3 separate regions of the Homo sapiens genome follow, and all the other regions are linked to region 3. The links come from fine-mapping of genetic effects on gene expression. A gene starts in region 3. Each other region holds a variant in brackets. All regions are shown on one strand. Distances are from middle to middle.

Evidence for each region. PIP is the estimated chance that this variant, and not a neighbour inherited with it, causes the effect.
Region 1: its variant is fine-mapped to the expression of EFCAB14 in whole blood (INTERVAL, PIP 0.98).
Region 2: its variant is fine-mapped to the expression of EFCAB14 in whole blood (INTERVAL, PIP 0.98).

What each region holds. Positions count from the first base shown.
Region 1 is chr1:46,045,405-46,053,404 of GRCh38, forward strand. P3R3URF-PIK3R3 (P3R3URF-PIK3R3 readthrough) reads right to left here. Exons shown (of 10, transcript NM_001303427.2): 8 at 1,147-1,221; 9 at 514-684. It overlaps PIK3R3 (phosphoinositide-3-kinase regulatory subunit 3), which reads right to left. Exons shown (of 10, transcript NM_003629.4): 8 at 1,147-1,221; 9 at 514-684. LOC124904171 (a long non-coding RNA gene) reads left to right here and starts at 6,825. Exons shown (of 3, transcript XR_007066061.1): 1 at 6,825-6,950; 2 at 7,601-7,743. The variant C/CA (reference allele first, on the strand shown) is at 4,717.
Region 2 is chr1:46,074,639-46,082,638 of GRCh38, forward strand. It overlaps P3R3URF-PIK3R3 (P3R3URF-PIK3R3 readthrough), which reads right to left. Exons shown (of 10, transcript NM_001303427.2): 2 at 6,004-6,112; 3 at 2,877-2,975. It overlaps PIK3R3 (phosphoinositide-3-kinase regulatory subunit 3), which reads right to left. Exons shown (of 10, transcript NM_003629.4): 2 at 6,004-6,112; 3 at 2,877-2,975. Among named protein-coding and RNA genes, the nearest start is that of PIK3R3, 54 kb to the right of the region's middle. The variant C/T (reference allele first, on the strand shown) is at 3,759.
Region 3 is chr1:46,714,692-46,723,044 of GRCh38, forward strand. EFCAB14 (EF-hand calcium binding domain 14) reads right to left here and starts at 4,423. Exons shown (of 11, transcript NM_014774.3): 1 at 3,212-4,423; 2 at 1,604-1,752. The coding sequence starts at 3,396. RefSeq lists silencers at 4,228-4,277, 4,598-4,647.

The DNA.
Region 1 (8,000 bases), 670 kb before region 3:
AAGGAAAATAGGCTTTTCTCAAAAAAGTCACGATTATCTTATGGAAAACACGCCCACATTTCCTGTCACTACATCAACAGAATAATATGTAATTTAAAATTTTAGATAGAGTTTTCCTTCTGAAGTAAAAACAGTTCTATTTAATCAAGCTTTTCCTAATCTGACACTGGAGACCATACTAGACATATAGGATACTACTAAACAATTAAGTGCTTTTTTTTTTTTTTTTTTTTTTTTTTTCAATTTAAGATCTCACATTACCTTTCACAGACACCTGAAATCCAACAGCAATACTGCGGGGCCTAATCTACTTACCACGTAAATTAAAACTCCAAGATAATTTCAGATATCATTTCTCATAAAGCTGGGTTTTTTTGTACTAATAGTTATGGTCCGAGCCATGGGTCCTCGTTACTGTACATTAACTAATTTCATCTGAATTTTATGAGGGGTTGATTTTATAATAATTGATGCAAAAGATTTCAAAAGGTTATATCCCCAGAGAAGACTTACACCACAGAGCAAGCATAGCATCCTTTCTTGCTACTCTCACGAATTAAGAATGCACCATCAGGTTTCCCATAAAGCAAGTCCTCTGCTTGTACTCGATTGATATCCTCAACAAACCAGGTTTTCTCATCATAATGGGGCAGGTTTTCATCTTCCTCATTGATAAAATAGTTCCTAAAAATTAAATATTAGTATATTATTCTAACAAGTTACTTCTATCTAAAAGCAAATTCATAAATAAAACACTCTTCTAAATCTTTAAACCACAAATAACAAAGCAAAATTGCAATTATTTGGGTGTTAACTTCATTACTTGCTATGGTGCATAAAGCAAAGAATTCATGTTTCATCCAATAAGCTGAAATATGAACATCTGAATAAAAGTGCTTTTACATCCAGATTTTGGGTAGCTATACTCAAAGTAGCTTACACATCCAGATTTTGAGTTCAGAAGCAGGTCTCTGAACTCCAGTGCCTATAGGGTACCTTCAGGCAATTCAATTCAAAAGATAGTCAAAGTTCTAGATTCAATGTCCTCAAGTGACAATGACAACCAATATTTACCACGTATAAACAAGGCGCATGTCTTATATTGATAACAAAGCCCTCTGACAGAAAGGTATAGAGAGAACTTACTCATCAGCATCCTCATTCTTAATTCCCAGCCAGACATTCAGGCGTTTCTGTCTCACTCCTTTGTGATTGAGCCATCTGCCAGAGGAAAGACACCAGTGTCAGTATCCATGCAAACTCTGACTGGACAAAGTAGGTATGTCTGAGCCAACTAAACTTCTAGAGTCTAGACACCTCTTGTTTTTCCTAATCCCACAGAATGGGCAAAGATTTCCCAAAATTAGTCTCTCGATTACTTTTCTTTCAACTACTATCAAGATGAACTGATCTTTTCCAGAAAAAGGCAGAAACATAGAGGGCTACTTGAAATTAGGCCCTTCACTTTTCATTTTTCTTTTCTGGAGGATGTGCCACCACAAGCACACACATACTCGCACTCACAGTGGGACATTTGTTTCTGAAAACATTAGGTTAGCATGGTGTCACATTTGCAATCTCCACTAAGCCTGAGGACACACTTCCTGTGTGACCTACTGAATTGAGTTTAATATTTTAACTAAAAACTTCAAGATCTATTTTTGCATTTAAGCAGGCCACAAGAAATTCAGGGTGGCAATCTGAGTAATTAATATGAGTGAACTTCATTACCAAGAAAATCATAGTATCCAAGCCGGGCGCGGTGGCTCATGCCTGTAATCCCAGCACTTTGGGAGGCCAAGGCAGGTGGATCACCTGCGGTCAGCAGTTTGAGACCAGCCTGGCCAACATAGTGAAACCCCGTTTCTACTAAAAATACAAAAATTAGCCAAGTGTGGTAGTGCATGCCTGTAATCCCAGCTACTAGGGAGGCTGAGGCAGGAGAATTGCTTGAAACCAGGGGGTGGAGGCTGTAGTGAGCTGAGATTGTACCACTGCCCTCCAGTGTGGGCGACAGAACGAGACTCCATCTCAAAAAAAAAAAAAAGAAAGAAAGAAAGAAAAGAAAAAATCATAGTATCTTAAAATGTGCTAGTATTTTAAATGTAAAATGAGGTAAACCAGCACACTTTGTTCCTTTCAGATGGCCAATAGTCTAAAACTAGAGTGGAGTGGAAAGCATCTTCGTTCATCATTACCCACCAAGCAAGGCTCCTATCATTCAGGTTTCATCATCAACACCATCCCCTCAGGGAGGACTATCCTAACTGTCCCAACTAAGGCAGTCCCCAGTCACTCTCTACACTTTACCTTGTTTTATCATCTTCATAGCACTTAGCTAAAATCCATTATTTTATATTTTTGTTTGTTTGGTTGGTTGGTTGGGGTTTTTTTGAGACGGACTCTCACTCTGTCACCTAGGCTGGAATGCAATGGCACAATCTCGGCTCACTGCAACCTCCATCTCCAGGGTTCAAGCAATTCTCTCACCTCTGCCTCCAGGGTAGCTGGGACTACAGTCACGCGCCACCATGCCCAGCTAATTTTCGTATTTTTAGTACAGACAGGGTTTCACCATGTTGGTCAGGCTGGTCTTGAACTCCTGGCCTCAGGTGATCCGCCCATCTTGGCCTCCCAAAGTGCTGGGATTACAGGCATGAGCCACCGTGCCAGGCCTATTTTATATTTGTATTTGTTTATGTCTGTCTCCCCAATAAAATGTAAGCTGCTGTAATGAAAGTGGTCTGTCCTGTTCATGGCTATGTTGCCAATTATTAAAACAGCACATGCACATAGACATTCAATTGTCAGTAAATATTTGCTGGTGGGCTGCTTTTAACAAAATCTTCACAACTCCAGGATCATCCTGTATCTCCCCAAGTATACAAGATAACTTGGCATCACACCTAATTTTAAAGTTCTGTTAGACAGATTTCACAGTCTTTCTCAGTAAGAATTGCCCTTTAGTTAACTTGGATTTCATTTTTTATTCTTAGCAAAACTGGAAAATAGATAATATGTGATCTTGATACAACTGATTTAGTAACAAACCCCCTCCCCCACACCATCGCGTCTGTCATCAAAATATCCAGATGCCCTCCTCTAAGCATTCTTATCACCCAAAGTTTTCTATCCTTAAAGAAACTGACCTTCTCTTTATCAAAGAAATATGCACACTGGGTAAAAAAGTGTGAGTTGAATGAATGCACGACATTTTCTCTTGAATCCCCATTTTCTTTTAACCACCAACCTCTTTAAACTGAGCCTCCCTTTCTGCCACACACAATGTTAGGAACTCATTTCCTAACACTTTCCTAATTGAAAAAAAAAAGAAAAAGAAAAATTGCTTTTGCTCCACCCTCCATTTATGATGGTGCCTACCTTCTGACTTAGGCAACTTTTCCAATCTCCTAAAAGTCCATTTCAAAGACTTATCTAGTTCTGAGTCCTTACAAACCTATTAACAATGCCAGGAGTTGATTAGATTTTAAAAACCATTTTCAAAAACCTCAAATAGCTTTAGTAAATACGTTAATTCACATTTAATGTTATCGAATCATGCACTGATCACAAATAGATGCAATAAATTCTACAGGAAAAATCTGAGGCAAAACATTCAAAGACCTAACATCCAGCTCTGATTCTGTTGGTGTGGTAATTGGGTTGTAAAACCAATTAGATTTTTAGAAAAGATACTATATATACATATTTTTTGGCATGGTCTTGGACCCATCTCTCTTTGGCCCAGCAATCTCTTCTTAAAAAAAAAAAAAAAGGAAAATACTACTTCCATAGATTAAAAATAGCTGGTGTTAGCATATCTTTTCCTAGCCCTACCCCAGCAAGTAAGGGAAAAAATATGTATTATATAGTGTCCTTTCTAAAGATCTAATTGGTTTTACAGCCCAACTACCACACTTTAAGAAGAGAGTTTGTGTTTCAGTCTAAGACAAAAGGATTAAGCTGGGAAGCCCCTGAGAGAGAAGGACAGGAGAAACGACTTTGAAGCTGACGCCTTCGTCCTGGAAGAAAGCAGAAGCTTAGAGCCTGGCTGAAGTAGAAAACGGGGTGACAGAAAACGGTGCCTCAGGCACAGGGCATCCTGGATGGAGAATGAGGTTTTAAGATGCAGCATCTGTTGGTAGCCAGTGATGAGATTACTGTGAAGGACACCTTGGAATTTTCTAAAATAGCCAGATGGCAAGACCCAATGATTAGGCAGAGGAGCACCCAATGACAGCAGTCAAGAGGGAGGCACAAAGGACTTTGTGCTCCTCTAATTTTCTGGCACTACTTCAGGATGACATTCTTACATGATCCAAGTGTCAGTCTGTGTAGGAGGTATGAATGATAACAGAGATCAAATATTTTTAATGTAACCAGGCCAGTGGGAGCTTGGAATAAATTTAATTAAAAAAAAAAATGAGGAATGGAGCTGGACGCAGTGGTTCATGCCTGTAATCCCAGCACTTTGGGAGGCCAAGGCAGGAGGATCACCTGAGATCAGGAGTTCGAGACCAGGCTGGCTAACATGGTGAAACCCCGTTCCTACTAAAAATACAAAAAATTAGCCAGGCATGGTGGCGCACGCCTGTAATCCCAGCTACTTGGGAGGCTGATGCAGGAGAAGTGCTTGAACCTGGGAGGCAGAGGTTGCAGTGAGCCGAGATCGTGCCATTGCACTCCAGCTTGGGCAACAAGAGTGAAACTCTGTCT[C/CA]AAAAAAAAAAAAAAAAAAATGAGGAATGAAACTTGTCTTCCACCAAATTTTATGGACAGACATATTCTCTACATAAAAACAAAGTGGGATAACATATACAATACTTTAAAAAGAAAAATCACTTATAAAAATTTAGTTATCAGAAATATATTAAAGAATGAAGCCAGGTGCGGTGGCTCATGCCTGTAATCCCAGCACTTTGGGAGGCTGAGGGAGGTGGATCACCTGAGGTCAGGAGTTCGAGACCAGCCTGGCCAACATGGTGAAACCCCATCTCTACTAAAAATACAAAAATTAGCTGGAGGTGGTGGTATGCGCCTATAATCCCAGCTACTCAGGAGGCTGAGGCAAGAGAATTGCTTGAACCCAGGAGGCAGAGGTTGCAGTGAGCCAAGATTGCACCATTGCACTCCAGCTTGGGCAACAAGAGCGAAAATCTGTCTCAAAAAAAGAAAAGAAATGTATTAAAGAATGATTCATTACTTTAAGAAACCCCAATTATCACTACTGGTGTGAATGTAAAATAGTGCAACCACTACACAATGATAATTACCATATGATCCAGGAATTTCACTCCTCAGCATATACCCATGAAAAATGAAAATACACATCCATCCAAAAACCTGTACATAAATGTTCACAGCAGCATTACTGAAATAGCCAAAAAGACAGAAACAACCCAAATGTCCACCAACTGATGATGATTAAACAAAATGTGGTATAACTATACAACAGACTATTATTTGGCCATAAAAAGGAATGAAATACTGACATACGCAGACAAACTTTGAAAACACCATGCTAAGTGAAAGAAGCCAGTCACAAAAGAGTACATTTTACATTATTTTCATTCATATGAAATGTCCAGAATAGACAAATCCATAGACACAGAAAGTGGATTAGCGGTTGTTTAGGGCTAAATGAAAGAGGTGATAGGGATGTTAAGTAAACAGTGCAGGGTTTTTTTTAAGGTGATGAAAATGTTCTAAAATATGTGGTGATGACAAAATACCTGTGAACATACTAAAAACATTGAATAATACACTTTAAATGGGTGAACTGTATGCGATGTAAACTGTATCTCAATAAAGTTGTAAAAGCAAAAAATAAAACCAGAACACAGCACCCTCCACAGAACTTTTTTTTCTTTTTTTTTTAATACAGAGTCTCATTCTGTTGCCCAGGCTAGAGTGCAGTGGGGCGATCTCAGCTCACTGCAACCTCCACCTCCCGGGTTCAAGCAATTCTCCTGCCTCAGGCTTCCCACTAGCTGGGATTACAGGCATGCGCCACCATGCCTGACTAATTTTTGTATTTTTAATAGAGACAGGGTTTCACCATGTTGGCCAGGCTGGTCTCGAACTCCTGACCTCAGGTGATCCACCTGCCTCAGCCTCCCAAAGTGCTGGGATTACAGGTGTGAGCCACTGCACCCGGCCACATAGAACTAACTCCTTTATCTGCAAACTCCCCTATATATATATTACTCAAAACTCATCAATTCCCTAAGCAGAATATGCATCAAAAAACCCATCATCATTATGTACCTATATTGTTATGGCCGTTATTATTTTAAATTTATGAATTTTGGTTTATGAATACTGTAGCCCCTGCTTATCCATGGGGAATAGTTCCAAGACAACCAAATAGATGCCTGAAAGCAGACAGTACTAAACCCTATATATACTGTTTTTTCCTACACATACATACCTGTGATCATTTAATTTATAAATTAAGCATAGTAAGGGATTAACAAAAACAAATAATACACTTTGGGAGGCCGAGGCAGGCGGATCACAAGGTCAGGAGATTGAGACCATCCTGGCTAACACAGTGAAACCCCATCTCTACTAAAAAAATAAAAAAATTAGCTGGGCATGGTGGCAGGCGCCTGTAGTCCCAGCTACTCGGGAGGCTGAGGCAGGAGAATGGCGTGAACCCGGGAGGCGGAGCTTGCAGTGAGCTGAGATCGCGCCACTGCACTCCAGCCTGAGTGACAGAGTGAGACTCCATCTCAAAAAAAAAATTAAATAAAATAAATAACTAAGAATAAAATAGAACAATTATAACAATATGCTGGAATAAAAGTTATGTGAATGTGGTCTCTCAAAATGTCTTATTGTGCTGTATTCACCTATCTAGACTGTGGCTGACTGGGGATACCAGAAAACACGGAAAGCAAAACCGCAGTAAGCAAAACCATGGACCAAGGGGGACTACAATACCAAAAAAGGTAAATGGTAATCATGAAAGCTAGCCTTAACTCATGAGGAAAAAGAATTGCATATTAACAACAAAATTCCTTTTTTTGAAAAGGAATTTTTTAAAAAATTGATACCTAAGAAATTTTTAATGTATTTATTGAGTTATAATACACATAAAGCACATTAATCTTAAGTGTACTGATAAATTTCTACCTATGTATAAACCCATGGAACCCCACTCATATCAAGATTCGAACATTTCTAGAACCCTTAAAGGCTCCTCATCCCATTTTCCCATCAAAACCCCCACCATAAATAATCACTATTTTTAATTCTATCATCATAGATAGGTTTTACCTATTCTTGAGCTTCCAGTAAATGGAATAATATCCTAGAATTTTTTTTCTATATTTAAGCAATGAAATTCTGTATTTAAACACTCAAGAATATCCTACTAGTAGTACACCAAGCTCTCAGCAGACAATCACATAGAATCCTTGTGGGCTATGGAGTGGCCAGTCAAGGAAATGACCACATCCAAAGAGGGCTTAAAGAACTAATGACAGTCTTTAGGTAGGTATCACAGAATTCCACCCTATTCCTTTAAAACAAGACCAGAGAGAGATCATACTCAGTATCATGCAGCAATGCTAATATGAGACACGTATTTTACTACCAGTCTTCTTCAGGACCGACTATACAAATTCCAGCATTAGAATAGATCAAATCCACCAAGCCCAGAGACAATTCTCTGTTAGAAACATCAAAGCATGGACCATGGGACACTGAACTATTCTCCTGGAAGCAGCCCTTCCAAAAGAGGTAATGGCTGTCTGTGTCTCCCTACACTTCTGAGTTGTCCTTACTTGTAGGTTATGAATTTGTCATCCATGATGTTATCTAAACTCTTATATTTGTTGTTGTTGTTGTGGTGTCACTGTTTTGTTTTCTGTGGTTTTTTTTGGTGTGTATGGTTTTTGTTGTCTTTTTTTGCTGTTGTTTTCTTTCTGTCTTCTGTATTTAGTTTATACAACCCATTAAAGAAACTTCCAAGGTCTGGTTTGCCACATGCTATATAG
Region 2 (8,000 bases), 640 kb before region 3:
AGAGTCAATCCCCTCAGACAAAGGTGGAAAGGCCAGTGTAGGGGGGATGCTGTTACTGGGGGTGGGAGGCCATTTCTGCTGGCAAACAAGACTCATCAGAATTTAGGAGCTCAACGTCCCCAGCCTCATCAGGGTCTTCCCACACATCCCCATCCAAACGTATAGAATTCCATCTTTCCCAACCAATGCCCTCATTTTAACAGCAGATACCTTACAAGGCTGATATTTCACCTTTGATTGTAATTCAGCTAATCACATGATGAGAGTATGTGTTTGATTTTGTGCAATTTCAGACCTTTGGCAACAGAAGAGAAGATTCTGACTTAGGGCATATTTAGAAGCTCTTGGGCTATTTATGGCAGAGCTGGGGCCAGGAAATCAAAACCCTGAGCTCACCCTTTTCTTTCATCACTTCGTCCAGCAATATTAGAAAACCTTGGTTTTCTACAAACGTTTGACAGTATCAAATACAGGGTTGCCAAGTTCCTTGCCTCTTATAGGTGGTAAATTAGAAGTATCAAATGCAGATATTTAGCATATCGCTATATAAACAGTTCACAGCATGGACTGTCAGTGCTCTCTGTACTATTAGAAGTAGGGTCCTTAGCATTTTTAAGTCTCATCAAATTAAGAGAGCCAATTCCGGGAACCCCAAAATTAATTAAGGAAACTCATCCTTAAAATTCTCTTCCTCAGGCTGGGCACAGTGGCTCACGCCTGTAATCCCAGCACTGGAAGGTCGAGGCAGGAGGACTGCTTGAGCCCAGGAGTTTTGAGACCAGCCTGGGCAACACAGGGAGACTCCATCTCTACAAAAAATAAAAAACACAAAAACTAGCTGGGTGTGGTGGCATGCGCCTTTGGTCCCAGCTACCCAGGAGGCTGAGGTAGGAGGATCACTTAGGCCTGGGAGGTTAAGGTTGCAGTGAGCCATGACCATGCCACTGCACTCCAGCCTAGGAGACAGAGCAATAACCTGTGTTAAAAAAAAAAAAAATTACCTTCCTCTAGAATCATTCCTGGTACCAAATCTGTGTTAATCAGAGTTCTCCAGAGAGACAGAACCAATAGGAGAGAGACAAAGATAAATATGAGGGGATTTATCAGGGGAATTGGCTCACATGTTTATGGAGGCTGAGAAGTCCCATTACAGGCCATCTGCAAGCTGGCATGCCAGTAGTGTGGCTCAGTCCAATTCCTAAAGCCTCAGAACCCAGGAAGCCAATGGTATAACTCTCAGTCCAAGACTGAAGGCCTTGAGAACCCATAGGGGGTGAGGAGGATTGGTATAAGTCCTGGAGTCCAAAGGCTGGAGTTCTGATTTCCAAGGACAGAATAAGAGTGTGCTCCAGCTCCAAGACAGAGAGATAAAATTTTTTTCTTTCTTTTTGTTCTATCCTCAGCCAATTGGATGGTGCTCACACTGAGGGGCGATCTTCCTTACTCAGTCCACTGACTCAAATGCTAATCTGCTCTGGAAACACCCTCACAGACACATCCAAAATAATGCTTTACCAGTTCTCTAGGTAATCCAGCCAAATTGACACTTAAATTAATCATCACATATATTAAGGCCATGGGACAGGACAAGCTCACCTTAAGAGAATGAATACAGAGAAGAAAAAGAGGCCCAGGTCCCAAGCCCTGGAACACTTAAAATTTAGATATTGAGCAAAATAGCTTAAAGTTAGGAAGAAAATCAGGAAAGTGTGACGTCTTAACAGCCAAAACAATAAACTGCTTCTAAGAAGAAGTGTCTATGACCAATGCTGCTAAGAGGTCAAGTAAGGTAAGAAGAGAAAAGTGTTTAGCAGTCTCCGTGGAGTGGTGGAGACAGAAGCCTGAGTGGAGTAGAGGAAAAATTGTGTTCAATGAATTACTGTAGAACACTGATTAGTCAGCACAATTCAAGTGCAAAGGTATTAATTTCTTTAGCTCTTTACCAGAAACTAAAATAGTGCCTCCAAATTTATGCCATACTAGCATAAAATGAGGCATTATTTTTCCTAAAGATATTAGGCTGGAAAGGCAGCAAACAGCCAGATGAATCTGGATTTAAACTCTTCCTCTACCACTTTCTAACTATGTGACTTTAGGCAAGTTCCTTAACCATGTTAACCCTTAGTTACCTCATCTATAAAATGGGAATAGTAATAATACCTACCTCATAAGGTTGTTGTGAAGAATAAATGATCTATTGCATGTAAAGGCCTTAGTACAAGAAAGTTAGTCATTGTTATTGTTACTGTTATTTTCTTTTTGTTAAATATTTCCTTTTTAAAAAAAATCATAAGGCTTTATTGTAACTGGGCTACTTTAATTATTAAAATTAAATGTGGAAATTTCTCATGCAGTTTTCTTAACCTTTTAAAAATATGTGCAAATATTAAAAAATCATATATCCATCACTTAAAAGACTCTAAATATGCCCATATGAAAAGCATGATATACGCTAGGAACTGCTTTATCTTCAGCATATCCTCATCAACCAAAATTATGTTGAGTTCTGCTTTCTAAAGTCTGCATTAAGGAAGATAATAGGGTTATTCAAAGGATAGATTCATTTTTACCCTTAGAATATGCCCATGACTTCTACTTCCTTTATAAGGTCAACAGTATGCTTCCTACTCCCTTACATTTTGGGATTTTAACCTTTTCATTTTCTTTCTACATTTTTTTAAGTTGCCATTTTTATACAAAATGTTTAAATACTTAATGTATAGAAAAAAGAATTAGCCAGACTGGAAATTATGTACATAAATTAAATGAAAATATGAAAAATTGTATAGATAAAGATTTAAATACAGAAATATCTGTATACCCAGAACTAAAATAACATCAGTAGAGAACTAGCCAAAAGACTGAAAAGTACTTACCGCAAAGTCAAAGTATAATCTCCCTGCATTTTTGTTGAGGCATCTCGGACCAAGAAGGTCCCATCTGGCATATCCCGCAATTTGTCATTTACCTCCTCCCTGAAGAACAGAATTATAAGAAAAATGAAAAAATGTCAACACTGGTGGCTTCGGCAGTAGGTGTGCCTTCTTTACATGTTACTACTAAGGCAGCTTCGGCAGTAGGTGTGCCTGAGGTTATAGAATAACGGAGCCATTTAGAGGTCATTTAGTTCTTCCCTGCATTAAATATGCTCTTTCTGTTTTGATTTTTGGTGTTACGCAATCTACAGAAGAGCTATTTGATTTTTAAACTCTTCCAGATTTCAAATGTGTGTAAGAGATACTGTTTCCATCAAGCCTTTAAGGGTTTCCTTAGGCAGGTCTGAACTTGTAAAGTTTCAGGAAAAAAACAGTGGCTGTTTAGAAAGAAGGTTATATTTAAGCAACAGTGGCAGCTGTTTCTGAACAGAAGGGGGAAAATTCACTAAGTTCATAACCTTTCAATAGGATAGTCTCCTAGTTTGAATTTGTCCCGATAACAAATTCCTTCTGTAGAGTTGATTTAGGACTTTAAGGCACAACACTAGAACACTTAAAGGAAATGGCAGGGCATAAAAGACCCTTGAATCATATCAGAACCACATGATCTTAAAATTTAAAAAAAGACTTTTATTGTACAATATTAAAATAGAAATATTCTAACCAATTTTAAAATAAAATGGCTGGGTGCAGTGGCTCACGCCTATAATCCCAGCACTTTAGGAGGCTGAAGCAGAGAGGTCACTTGAGGTCACGGGTTCGAGACCAACCTGGCCAACATGATGAAACCCTGTCTCTACTAAAAATACAAAATTAGCCGGA[C/T]GTGGTGGCAGGGCAAGCGCCTGTAATCCCAGCTACTTGGGAGGCTGAGACAGGGGAATCACTTGAACCTGGGAGGCGGAGGTTGCAGTGGGCTGAGACTGCACCACTGCACGCCAGCCTGGGGGACTGAACGAGACTCTATCTCAAAAAAAAAATTTTTTTAATAAAACATATTAAGTCCTCTTCAAAAAGTTAAACACAGAATTACCTACCATATGACCTGGCAATTCCATTCCACTACTGGGTATATACCCAAAATAACTGAAAGCAGGGACTCAGATATGTGTGCACCAATATTAATTGCAGCATTATTTACAACAGCCATAAATTAGAAACAATCTAAATGTCCAGATGAATGGATTAAAAAAATATATAACATATACATATATTAGCCTTAAGAAGGAATGAAATTCTGACACATGCTACAACATGAATGAACCTTGAAGACGTATGAAGAAAGTGAAATAAGCCAGTCACAAAAGTACAATTATTATATGATTACACTTATGCAAAGTACCTACAATTGAATTCATAAGACAGAAAGCAGAATGGTGGTTGCCATGAGCTGAGGGAGGGGAGAATGGGGGGTTATTGTTTAATGGGTACAGAATTTCTGTTAGGGAAAATGAAAAAGTTCTGGAGATGGATGGTGATGATAGCTGCACAACAATGCAAATGTACTCTTAAAATAGTTGAAATCGTAAGGGTAAAAAAAAATTAAATAAATACCATTTTGGTAGAGGAAGAGAACAGAGAAGAGAAAGGGATAGGTAAGTGTTCTGAGGAATACAGCATCAACCTGGAAACTGATTTGACAGAAATGGATAGGGCTTTAAAAAGAAAATACATCTGAGACCCACTAAAGCAAGTTTAACAAGAAAAAAATTTAGTAAGAAAATACAATATTCAAATTAAATGTATATAATTCCCTCTTTAGGTTCAAAATTACCTAAAACTACACTTTACCCAGAAAACAAATCTGTCCTAGAGTCCTGTTTATCAAACTGGGGTGTGTAAAGAGACTGCATCAAATTCACCCAGGGAATCTATTAAATGCAGATTCCTGGGCTCCACCTCAATTGATTTTTGTGCATGCAAAGACTTTGGAACCACTGGCTTAAGAGAAAGAAAGGTACAGAAATGTTAAGTACCCACAAATATTTTTAATTCTAAAACACATGTAACTATCCTAAATGTCTACATGTCACTTATTTAGAAATCCATCCTCAATATAGTATTAGAAGTAATAATCACACCCATAATTTAAAGATTTTCAGCCAGGTGCAGTGGCTTACACCTGTAATCCCAGCACTTTGGGAGGCCAAGGTAGGTGGATCACCTGAGGTCAGGAGTTCGAGACCAGCCTAGCCAACATGGTGAAACCCTGTCTCTACTAAAAATACAAAAACTAGCAGGGTATGGTGATGCATGACTGTAATCCCAGCTACTTGGGAGGCTGAGGCAGGAGAATCGCTTGAACCCAAGAGGCGGAGGTTGCAGTAAGCTGAGATCATGCCACTGCACTCCAGCCTGGGCAACAGAGTGAGACTCCATCTCAAAACAAATAAATAATGAAGATTTTCTTGTCACTTTTTCATGGGAAGAAAAGTATTAAGACACTAATGAAGCGTTCCCATGCAAAATTTTTTAAGTGAGCTTTTTCTTTTCTTTTTTTTTTTTTAAGAGACAGAGTCTCACTCTGTCGCCCAGGCTGGAGTGCAGTGGCACTATCTCGGCTCACTGCAACCTCCGCCTCCCAGGTTGTAGCAATTCTCCTGCCTCAGCCTCCCAAGTAGCTGGGATTACAGGCGCATGCCAACATGCCCAGCTAATTTTTTGTATTTTAGTAGAGACAGGGTTTCACTGTGTTGCCCAGGCTGGTCTCAAACTCCTGAGCTCGGGCAATCCACCCACCTCAGCCTCCCAAAGTGCATGGCTTACAGGTGTGAGCCACTGCACCCGGCCTTAAATGGTAATCTTTAAATAACAATTAGTAGAGCATTACAATGCTCTTTTTTTTTGAGAGTTGGGGGTCTTACTCTGTTGCCCAGGCTGGAGTGCAACAGAGTGCTCTCTACAGCCTCGAACTCCTGGTATCATGTGATTCTTCAGCCTCAGCCTCCTGAGTTGCTGGGATTATAGGCATGAGCCACCATGCCCAGCTTAAAATGGTTTACTTTAACTACTAATTCTCAAAAATGACTTTTTAAAAAACTGCATTCAATTACAGTAGCATTCTAGTTACCTTGAAATATCCCCCCAGTACCATTCTGCATCCTGAAGAGAAACAGAACTGTCCTTCATTCCATTTGGAACTGCTGAAGTCATTGGCTTAGGTGGCTTTGGTGGAAGAGCTAGAAGAGAAATGAATATTACTCTGTAGATGTAAATTATTTACTGTTTTCTAATTTCCTCAGGAGCAGCTCACTAACCAAGGTATGTTAAGATTCTAATAATTATCAATCAAATTGAGTATTATTTTATGTTAAATGTTAGCAACAGAAGGAATCCTTTTGATTGCCTAAAAAGTGAAAACGTCAAGATATTTGTTTTTTTCCTTCTTATGAAACATTGACTTCTAAGTCTGTAAAACTTCATTCACATCTCTCAAAAGACAACATGCAACCCCTTTTCCAAACAACTCAGTCCAAAAGCCACTAAGTGACCAATGTACAACATGAGGATTATAGTTAATAACATTGTATTATATACTGGTAATCTGCCAAGTGAGTAAATTTTAGGTATTCTTACTACCAAAAAAAAGGGTAACTATGAAATGATGGTTATGTTATTAATAATTTGCTCAACTGTAATAGAATGAACCCCCTTGTCTTGGACTAGAATTAGAGCTACAGATATCAACTCATGAATTTCAATGTATATAAACATAAATATGTAAATGTCTATACACAGAATACATATATTCCCTAGCTCTGTCCCGAGACAGAGATTCCCTAACCCCCGGGCTGCGGACTGGCACTGGTCCACGGCCTGTTAGGAAAAGCGCCACACAGCAGGAAGTGAGCAGTGGGCAAGTGAACATTACTGCCTGAGCTTCGGCATTAGATTCTCATAGAAGCACAAACCCTACTGTGAACTGCACATGTGAGGGATCGAGGTTGTGTGATCCTTATGAAAATCTAACTAATGCCTGATGATCTGAGGTGGTATAGTTTCATCCTGAAACCAATACCCCCAGCCTAACCCCACCCCAGCAATGAAACTGGTCCCTGGTGCCAGAAAGGTTGGGGACTGCTGCCCTGAGAGGTCCTGGGGGCAACAACACCCCAATATGTACACTGAGCACCTAGACCTTGCTTTCTAATACCATTCTCTACTAAAAGGAACCAGGGCTCTTTGAAGAAATTGCTGATTCCAGGGACAGAATAGAGCAAGTACCAAATGAGCCTGAACATCATCATGTGCCAAAAAGGAAGGAAGTGCTCAAAGAATGGGAGAGGCTATGTTAAAAGAACAAAACAGCGAACTGGAAGGGGCTCTCACTGACCAAATCTGGAACAGCTGGCATATCAATACAAATAATAATAGTAAAGAAATATAACTCATTAAACAAAATAGGAATATATGTGTTCATGCAGATATAAATAAATAAATAAATAAATAAAAGAAACAAAGATCGATGAGGACCAAGATTACTGTTATCTCAATATACTGTCCCACAAAATCCTAACTGCAAAAGGAAAAACAATAATAGTGAAAAAGCCTGGCAAATACCACCTTAATCAAGAATCAAGGTTAATATTAGAAATAATGGCAAAACTGTGGGCCCCAATACAATACACTAAAAAGGATGTAACATCACTTCTGTGACATTCCTGCCAAATATGTATAAACTGAATCTAATCATAAAGAAACATCAGACAAACCATGATTGAGGGGTATTCTACAAAATAACTTACCTGTAATCTTCAACAATGTACAGGTCATGAGGGTCAAGGAAAGACTGAGGAAATGTTTCAGATTGAAGAAGACTAAAGAATCCTGACAATTAAATGCAATGTGTAATTCTGGACTGGATATTTTTTGCTATTAAGGACAACACTGCGACAATGGGCAAAACTTGAATGGGATCTGAGTATGACATAGTAGTAGTACAGCAGTGTTAGTTTTCTGATTTTGATGGTTATATTGTGCTTCTGTAGGAAAATGTTCTTGTTTGTGGGAAATACACACAACATGGTCATCATATGGCATCACGTTGACAATCTACTTTCAAATGAT
Region 3 (8,353 bases):
TGTGGGGTGCTGACACGGGAAGACTGCTTGAGCCCATGAAGTCAAGGCTGCAACGAGCCAGATGCCACTGCACTCCAGCTTGGGTGACAGAGCAAGCAAGACCTTATCTCAAAAAAAAAAAAAAACAAGAAAGAAAAAGAAATGAAAAAGTAATTTGGATGTGTAAAATATAACTTTACAATTTAGAATATACAAAACTCTGTGACTTCAAAACCTCCTTAAACTTTAAAACTCACTCATGAGATAAACATTTCTGACAGTTGCACAGTGTTCAAAGTAGGTATGGTTGTTGTAAGCCCTTCACGAGTATGTAACTTAGTTCAAGTTTCCTAAAACTTTAAAATGATAACACTCATTAATGGTATTTAAATGTTTTTTTCTTGAAAGAGATCGTGTTACTAGTATAAGCACAGCTAAGGAGAGAAATCTATCAGTCCTTGCTCTAAGCTTGAAAACTGATAAGTATGCAGAAAACCAGTTCTTCCTGTTTCTTCTACTAAACTTCTTTTAGATTACTGACCAAGTTGATATCAAAGAGATCTGTAGGCACTTGAAGAAATGTGCATAGGCTTACAAGGCCACCAGGAACAGTGGTGCAGACAGTAGTGTTATAAATGTGAATTTGGGCAGCAAGGGGCAAGAGGACGCTCAGCTCTGTCATACTTAATCACTGAACAAATTACTTAATCCTTCTAAGAGCACAAAATAATAAAAATAATACCCATCTCACCGGATTATTTTGTAAAGAAAATGATTTGAGACTTGGCACAGAGTAGGCCTTCCACAAATGTTAGCTACTCTTATTATTGCCCATTCCTATGCTCCTATTCAGTCCTTCTAAAGAGGCAATCGTTTGACAGATGCTCCCACATTCTTTCTCAAATGGCCCTGTGAGGTGGAAGGAATAGCCCAGTGTTGTCATTGCCACTTTATGCTTGGGGAGATGCAAGCCATAAGTAGAGGTTACACCAAGTTCTAGACTCCTACCCCTAGGGTAGGAGTCTCTTGCCTTTTGCACGCTAAGCATTGACTGCAATGCCATTATTTCAGATGCTACTTGTCCTGCTGGTGCATAAGCACTGCCTTTTATTTGTGAGTTTAAAAACAAATAAGTGTTACAACATTCAAGCAGAGAGCTCAAAAAGAGTATAAAAATACTGAGAGGAACGTATAATTGCTTCACTAGAATGGGCAAAAATCTTCGTTCAGCAGGGTTGACTTTGTCCCAGAACCTGGAAAGGAGTCCAGGATTACACCCTGAAAAGAGTGACCACTGCTGGGTGTGGTGGCTCACGCCTGTAATCCTGGCACTTTGGGAGGCCGAGGTAGGTGGACCACCTGAGGTCAGTAGTTTGAGACCAGCCTGGCCAACATGGTGAAACCCCGTCTCTACTAAAAAGACAAAAAAATTAGCTGGGTGTGGTGGCACACACCTGTAATCCCAGTTACTCAGAAGGCTGACCATGAGAATCACTTGAACCTGGGTGGCGGATGTTGCAGTGAGCCGAGATTGCGCCACTGTACTCCAGCCTAGGCGACAGAGCAAGACCCTGTCTCAAAAAAAAAAAAAAAAAAAAAAAAAAGAGAGTAACCACTTACTTACTTGTTCGAAATTTTTCCTTGAGGGCATCCAGATCCTCCTTGAGAGCAACCTGCATCCACACCAAGCCAACACAGGCCACAACACAGGCAGCAAGGATGACAAAACCACAGAGCGGATAACAGATCTTGCAGCATCGTAAATAGTCTCCCCTGCTCAAGAGGACAAATTCAACCATGAGTACAAAAGTGATTATGGGTATAGCTTTATTAGCAATAGTACACGTTTTGCCATGCAATTATCTCCTTTAAATGAATAACCAGTGAATTAACCAGGGGAGGCAGGGTAAAGCACTTAAATGAATAAATAATATGACCTATTAAGGGTTCATCTACTGGATACAAAGGTTTCAAATGTCACATAAAACAGAAGGAGTTCCTGCAGGTAAAAGGAAGAACCTAAAGGCACTGCAGCTGTCATTATCAGGAGGGAGGTCTTTGAATACAAGCTCAGGTCACAAAAGTGTAAAGACCAATGTTTCTCTGCAATTCCATCTCTGCACTGGAATTTGCCTATTGATTTCTCTCTGAAATACATACTCACTCCGGGGAACCTTGCTCCAGTTTACTGAAACTTTATAAACTTTTGAGCAAGTTTTACTGCAAAAGAAATGAAAGAAACAGGATCTGTAGTTTTAAGTGGACACCTGGTGTATTCTAGCTTATTGGCTCAGAAGTAAGGAAACATAGAAGGGGCTGGATTTCACACAAAACATCAACCAACCTTCAAGGTCTAAACTAACTTAGTAGGGTTACTACTCCAGGTACCTTCTGATGAAGGTAACACTTCAACTGATCTTCATAACCCAAACCCAGGATTGCCCTTAACAGCCTTAGCTGACAAAGCTCATTAGAAATCAAACTCTTCCTTTAACAAAACAAGACATTTTAAACCAACCAACCACTCAATGTCAGCACCCCGACCTTCTGCCTAGCCATTGTTTCTACATCCTCAGCAGAATCCTCTTTTCTTTTAGTGTGCTCTGAGAGAGTCAAAGGACGTTTTTGAAGTTCCCTTTAGTCCTTTCCCATCCTGAGCCCCAATCCCAATGTCCTCAAATCTTACTACTTGATTTGCCTAGTGGTCTCTCCACCTATGAATGGCTAGGGAAAATGATGCCTCTTCTTTTGCCCCCCGACCCCACCTACTCTCAAGGCTCATACTTCCTACAGTATATCTCTCACCATATTTCCCCACCACCAATATTCAGACTCATCAAGAGTGCAAAAACGAAATAATCTGCAGTCTTAAAGTCTCTGCTTCTCCTTTGTTCTACACTGTTTTAAAAAGTCTAGTCCCCAAAGCTTCTCTGCTCCTCTGTCTCCATTCTTTGCTTCTTTAGGACTCCCTGGGCTCTTGGCACATTCTCCAAGTCCACATTTCCACCTCAGATTTGGAGCTTTTCTTTCTACACCTAAAGACAGATCTCTAACTTATTCTTCATTCAGGATCTGAACTTACCTTCTCCCTAAAACCGTTTTTCCCTCTTTGACTTCCAAGGCCTACACCCTTTTTTCTTCCTAAGGACTTCCTTTCTCCTTCCTGTCAATGTGGCCCCTTGGTAGTGCAAGGAGATGCCTTCTTCCCATTCCACCTTTCACCACTACTCACTTGGCAAAGCGAGAGCGATTTCCAACCACACCGAATTCCTCTTCCTCTTCGGAGCTGGACTCAGAGTCTGAGTCGGGAGGCTCAGTGCGAAGCAGGCGGTGACTGCTTGGGCCTTTCTTGGGCTTCTTTCTCCGGCTGTCCCCAGCCAAACCAATCAATGCATTGAGCTCTTTGCGCTTTTTCATCTTTTTGTGTGGGGTGAGTGGAGCCCCGACTCCTGAGCTGCCAGGTTCGTACCCGATGCCCAATTCTCTTCCTGCCTTGGAGCTGCCTTCCAGGGTTGGGAATCCTGGGCCAGAGCCCCCTGGTCACTCCCACCTAGGGGTGGGACTGACCAGATCCGCCAGGGACTGGAGATTGGAGCCCAGAGGAAACTGGAACTCAGATGGGTGGGGGAAATCACATAGAAATGGCCAAGGAGCTGGTGACCCCAAAGGATAAGGCCTTGGGTGCAGAGTGTTAGTAGAGGGTGGAGAGGGACCTTTATCTCCCAAAGGGCGAAAAAAAAGCCAGGTCAAAAATGAAGGATTCTCAGCCCGGATAAGTAGGCAATACTTCTAAGGGTGCTCCAGGAGGTGAGGAAGGGCACGCTTAAAATACGTGTTTCGGACCTCCGGAGCAAGATTTCCAATGGAGAGGGAAGAGAAACTCGTTCTTGAATGGGAAGAGAGTGGGGAGGTGCAGAGTAAGAAAGTGGGAACGCGTCAGTCCCTTCCTTGCAGGAGAGGTGGCGGCAGGAGGGGGCTCCCAGCAGCTACAATCCCAACACTGCTTGGCCGCAGAGAAAATGCCCTGGCCAGGAAGCCGGCTGGGGTGTGTGATGATCACCGTTCTCCGGCCTCCGTCCTGAACGTGAAGGGGGCCCGAGGCCGAGGAAGATCCGGAGCCCGGCTAGAAGGGTCGGCCTGAGAGAAGCCAGTCCCGCGCCTGATAGACCCCCGCCCCGCTGTCTGGGCCTTGGGGACACGGTGCCGCGGGCGACGGCGGCTCGGCCGACCGAAAGCGCTCCCGCCCGGAGTTTGAGGTCTCCGGCACGGGCAACTCTCGGCCACTCACACGCGCAGGCCCCACTCCAGCCGCGACTCCGGCCCCTGCTCCGGCTTCGGCCGCGGCTGCTCCCGACACGTTGTTGTTGGCGTTGGTGGCGGCGGCTGCGGCGGCGGCGGCCGCGAGCTCCAGCCCCGGGCCATCGCTCCAGCCCCAGATCACTTCCCCTTTGGCAGCGGCCGCCTGCGCCGCCTGCCAGTAAGCCGCACTCCCATTGGTCGCCCGCTGGGGTGACGTCACGCCGGGGCGAAAGTCGTGGCGGAGAGGTGGGGCGTTAAAGGGGCCCTGCCCCGGCTGGGGCTGGGTCCCACCTGCCGATTAGGGTGGCCCCGCCCCCAGGAGGGCTTCCGGGACCTGCTGCGAACCTGAGCCGGGTGGAGTCCTGCATCCTGCGGAGCGCGGGCGGGGCAGGCAAAGCGCCCGGCTGCTCGACCTACTTCGAAAGTTCATCAGCCGCCCACGCCCCCTGGACTAACCAAGTCTGAAGGCTCCGCCTCTCTGACTCTCACACAGGCTGTTAAAAGTTTAGGCGCGTTTCAGATTAATTAACACATTCATTCAGTCAATAAATATTTATTGAGAGCTTACTTACTACGTGTCAGGAGCTGTTCTAGCGCTGGGGATACAGCCATGAACAAAATAACCAGGGTCCTTGTCTTCCTGTATAGTGTTGCCAGATTTAGCAAATAAAAATGTAGGACACCCAGTAAAGTTTGAATTTCAGAGAAACAGCAAACAATTTTTTAGCATTAAGACATCCCATGCAACATCTGGGACATCCTCACACTAAAAAATTATTCATTGTGTATGTGAAATGCAAGTTTAACTGAGCATCGTGTATCTTATCTGCCAATCTATTCCTGCAGTTTATTTATACTCTAGAGGGAGGAGAGCAACAATAGGCAAACATATTAAATGTCAGGAGGTGATAAGTGTTATGATGAAAATTGAAACACGGTCAGGTGATGGGGAGTGCCTCTGTGAAAAGGGAACATTTAGTCAGCTTATCGGAGGAGAGGTGAGGGAATGAGCTGTGCAGTGGCTGCAGGAAGGAGTGACCAGGAAGACCTGTTGTGGCTGGACCAGAAGAGCAAGGAGCAGAGTGATAGGAAATGAGGTCAGAGAAGCATCAGAGGCCAGGGCTTTAGGGCCTTATGGATCACTGAAAGGACTTTGGGAAAGCACTGGGGGCTTTAAGCTGAGAGGTAGCATACTCTGGCTTTTCCGTAAAAAAAAAAAAAAAAAAAAAAATTCACTCTGGGCCAGCGCGATGGCTCACGCCTGTAATCCCAGCATTTTGGGAGGCTGAGGTGGGCGGATCACAAGGTCAGGAGATGGAGACCATCCTGGCCAATATGGTGAAACCTTGTCTCTATTAAAAATACAAAAATTACCTGGGCGTGGTGGTGCGCGCTTGTAATCCCAGCTACTTGGGAGGCTGAGGCAAGAGAATGGCTTGAAACCGGGAGGCGGAGGTTGCAACAAGCCGAGATTGCACCACTGCACTTCAGTCTGGCAACAGAGCGAGACTCCGTCTCAAAAATAAATAAATAAATAAATAAATAAATAAATAAATAAATAAATAAATAAATAAAATAAAATAAAATAAAGGAAAAAATTACTCTGGCTACTTTGTAGAAAAAAGTGGGGGGAGAGTGAGGAACACAGGAGAGCAGTTTGTTACAGTCCAGCTAGAGATGATGCTGATAGATTAGAGAGGCAGTAGCAGAGATGGAGAGCATTCTGGATGTTTCTTGAAGACAGAGCTGACAATTTTTGCTGATAGATTAGATGAAAGGTGTGAAGAGAAGAGAGGGTTTGGCGGTGGAAACACTGGAAGCAAGGAATTGTTATTTATTGAGATGGGGTAGAGCAAGTTTGGGACAAGTTTGACAAGCCAATTCAATATTCAAATGGAGGCTGTTTGGTATACCCATTGAGAGTTCTCTGGGCACAGGTTGGGGCCTGAAATATCAATTGGGAAGTCATCAGATATAAATGGAATTTAAAGCAAAGTGCTTTGAGCTACTTGGAAGAAAGTCACTTAAAGTAATTTTTATGCCCATATTCTTACTGTGGCAATTACGCTGCTTTTGTCCAAGGATTCTCGCAAAGCCTGGGCCTGTATCTGATTTGTTTTTAAGTGTCTAGCCCAGAAGTGTACTCCTAAATAACGATGACCCAATAAATATGTGATGACTACATAAGTGGGCAGTGTTGCAAAGAGGTATGAGTGGACTTTTGGAATCAAAATCAAGAAACCTGGGACTCAATCATGTCTCTACTTCTTCCTGGCTCCATCAGCATGGAAGCCGTTTAGTTTCTCTGAGCTTCAGTTTTCTCCTCTGTAAAATGGGGATAAACACCTATTTCACAGGACAATGAGATGAATGTGAAAGTGTTTTTGAAGCCCCAAGTCATGGTGTATTGTCCCCTTTTGTTTCTAGAGCTTCATTGCCCAATACAGTAGCCAAACTGGCCACATATAACAATTTAAATCTACATTTAACATAATTAAAACAAAATACAAATTTTAAATTGGTTCTTCAGTATCATTGGCCACAGTGTCCAGTAGCCATATGTGGCAAGTGGCTACCAGGCAGCAAGTAATAGTACAATTCCACCACCACAGAAAGTTTTACTGGAGAGTTCTTCACTAATGCTTCCCTGAAGGACTGGGGATAGACAGGTGAGGCTCCTGACTTCAAGAACCATTTCTGAAACACATCCTGTGGTCACCAGAAGCCCCAGGCAGGAGAGGTGGCTGGCCCGAGGGTGGGGTGGCCCTCCTTTGTTGTAGATGATACAGGTTCCCAGGGAACCAGGGACTGAGGAACCCAGGGGAGTGGGGCAGGGCTGAGGACATACCACCCCCGCTGCAGGGACTTCTGGTCAGCCAGAGCCTGTGCTCTCTGTGGGTGGAGATCTCTCCCATGACTGGCCAGTGGGCTGGTCATGGGTGGGGAGGCTGCAGGAGTAGAATTGACAAACAGGGGAATGCTTCTGCTGGATCTGCCTCTCAGTCCTTCTGTCTGCCTGTTTGCTTATGATCTGTAGATAACACCCCTCCTTGTTGGGTAGACATCACACAGGATGCTGTCACCCTTTGAAAGTTACTGGCCAGCTGTTTCTTTTCCTTCAGGAGCTCTTGGATACCTCTCTGGCCTCCTTCCTCAGACCCGGGACCCTCAAGGCCAGGGATTAAGCCACCCCACTCAGAGTGGGGCCTCCTGCTGCCCTCCCACACCAGGACTCCCAAGGTTGTGATCCATCTTCTCCTTTGGGGTTGTTCATATTATGATCCTGGGGAGTCTGTTAACCTACTCAAAACTTGCCTGAAATGCAGTGAGTTTGGGGAAGTCACTTTAGAGTTCTGGCGCTTCAAAGTTTCTGTCTGTGATATGGGGATGATAATATTCCTAGCCCAGTCTTCTGCTTCATGTTGTTTGGGGCAGGGAGTAGCATGGGCGTGCTTTACATGCTGTGAAGTGTCATGCAGAGTGGGTACATGTCTGCTGAATGCTTCTGGCAACTCTATGGGGAAGGTAGGCAAAGATGATTTCCCTGTGCTCAAAATCACAGCCCATATAACTGGCAAAGCCAAATCTTGAGACCCTGTGCTACTTTGGAAGACTCCATAGAGTGCTTTCACTTGGGCAAGCTGAGGCACAGAGTAGGGGCAAACTTGCCAAGGTCATAGTCAAAAATTGGATCCAGCTCTCCTAATTCCTGGGCTGAAAGCTCTTTAAGATCTTGGAGTCCTCTCTTACCTGGGATCTAAGTCTGTGTCTGAACATTGCCACTTGGCAGCTGTGTGATCCTGGACAAAGTACTGAGCCTCTCTGAGCCTCAGTGTCCACTATGATTGCCACCTCAGTGAAATAGAGGCAATCATAGTACCCAGGACTGGCTACATAATTTATGAGGACCAGTGCAAATGCAAATGCAGGGTTCCTTTTCTCTCTCTGCTGTCTCTCTCAACCTGTCTTCCTGTTTATTATTCACTATTTAATGTTGTATTCCCTTAGGCCTGGTGATACAAGGTGAGTGTAGACCCTCACATGAGACAGGCAAGAGGCCTGTTTCATGACTTGG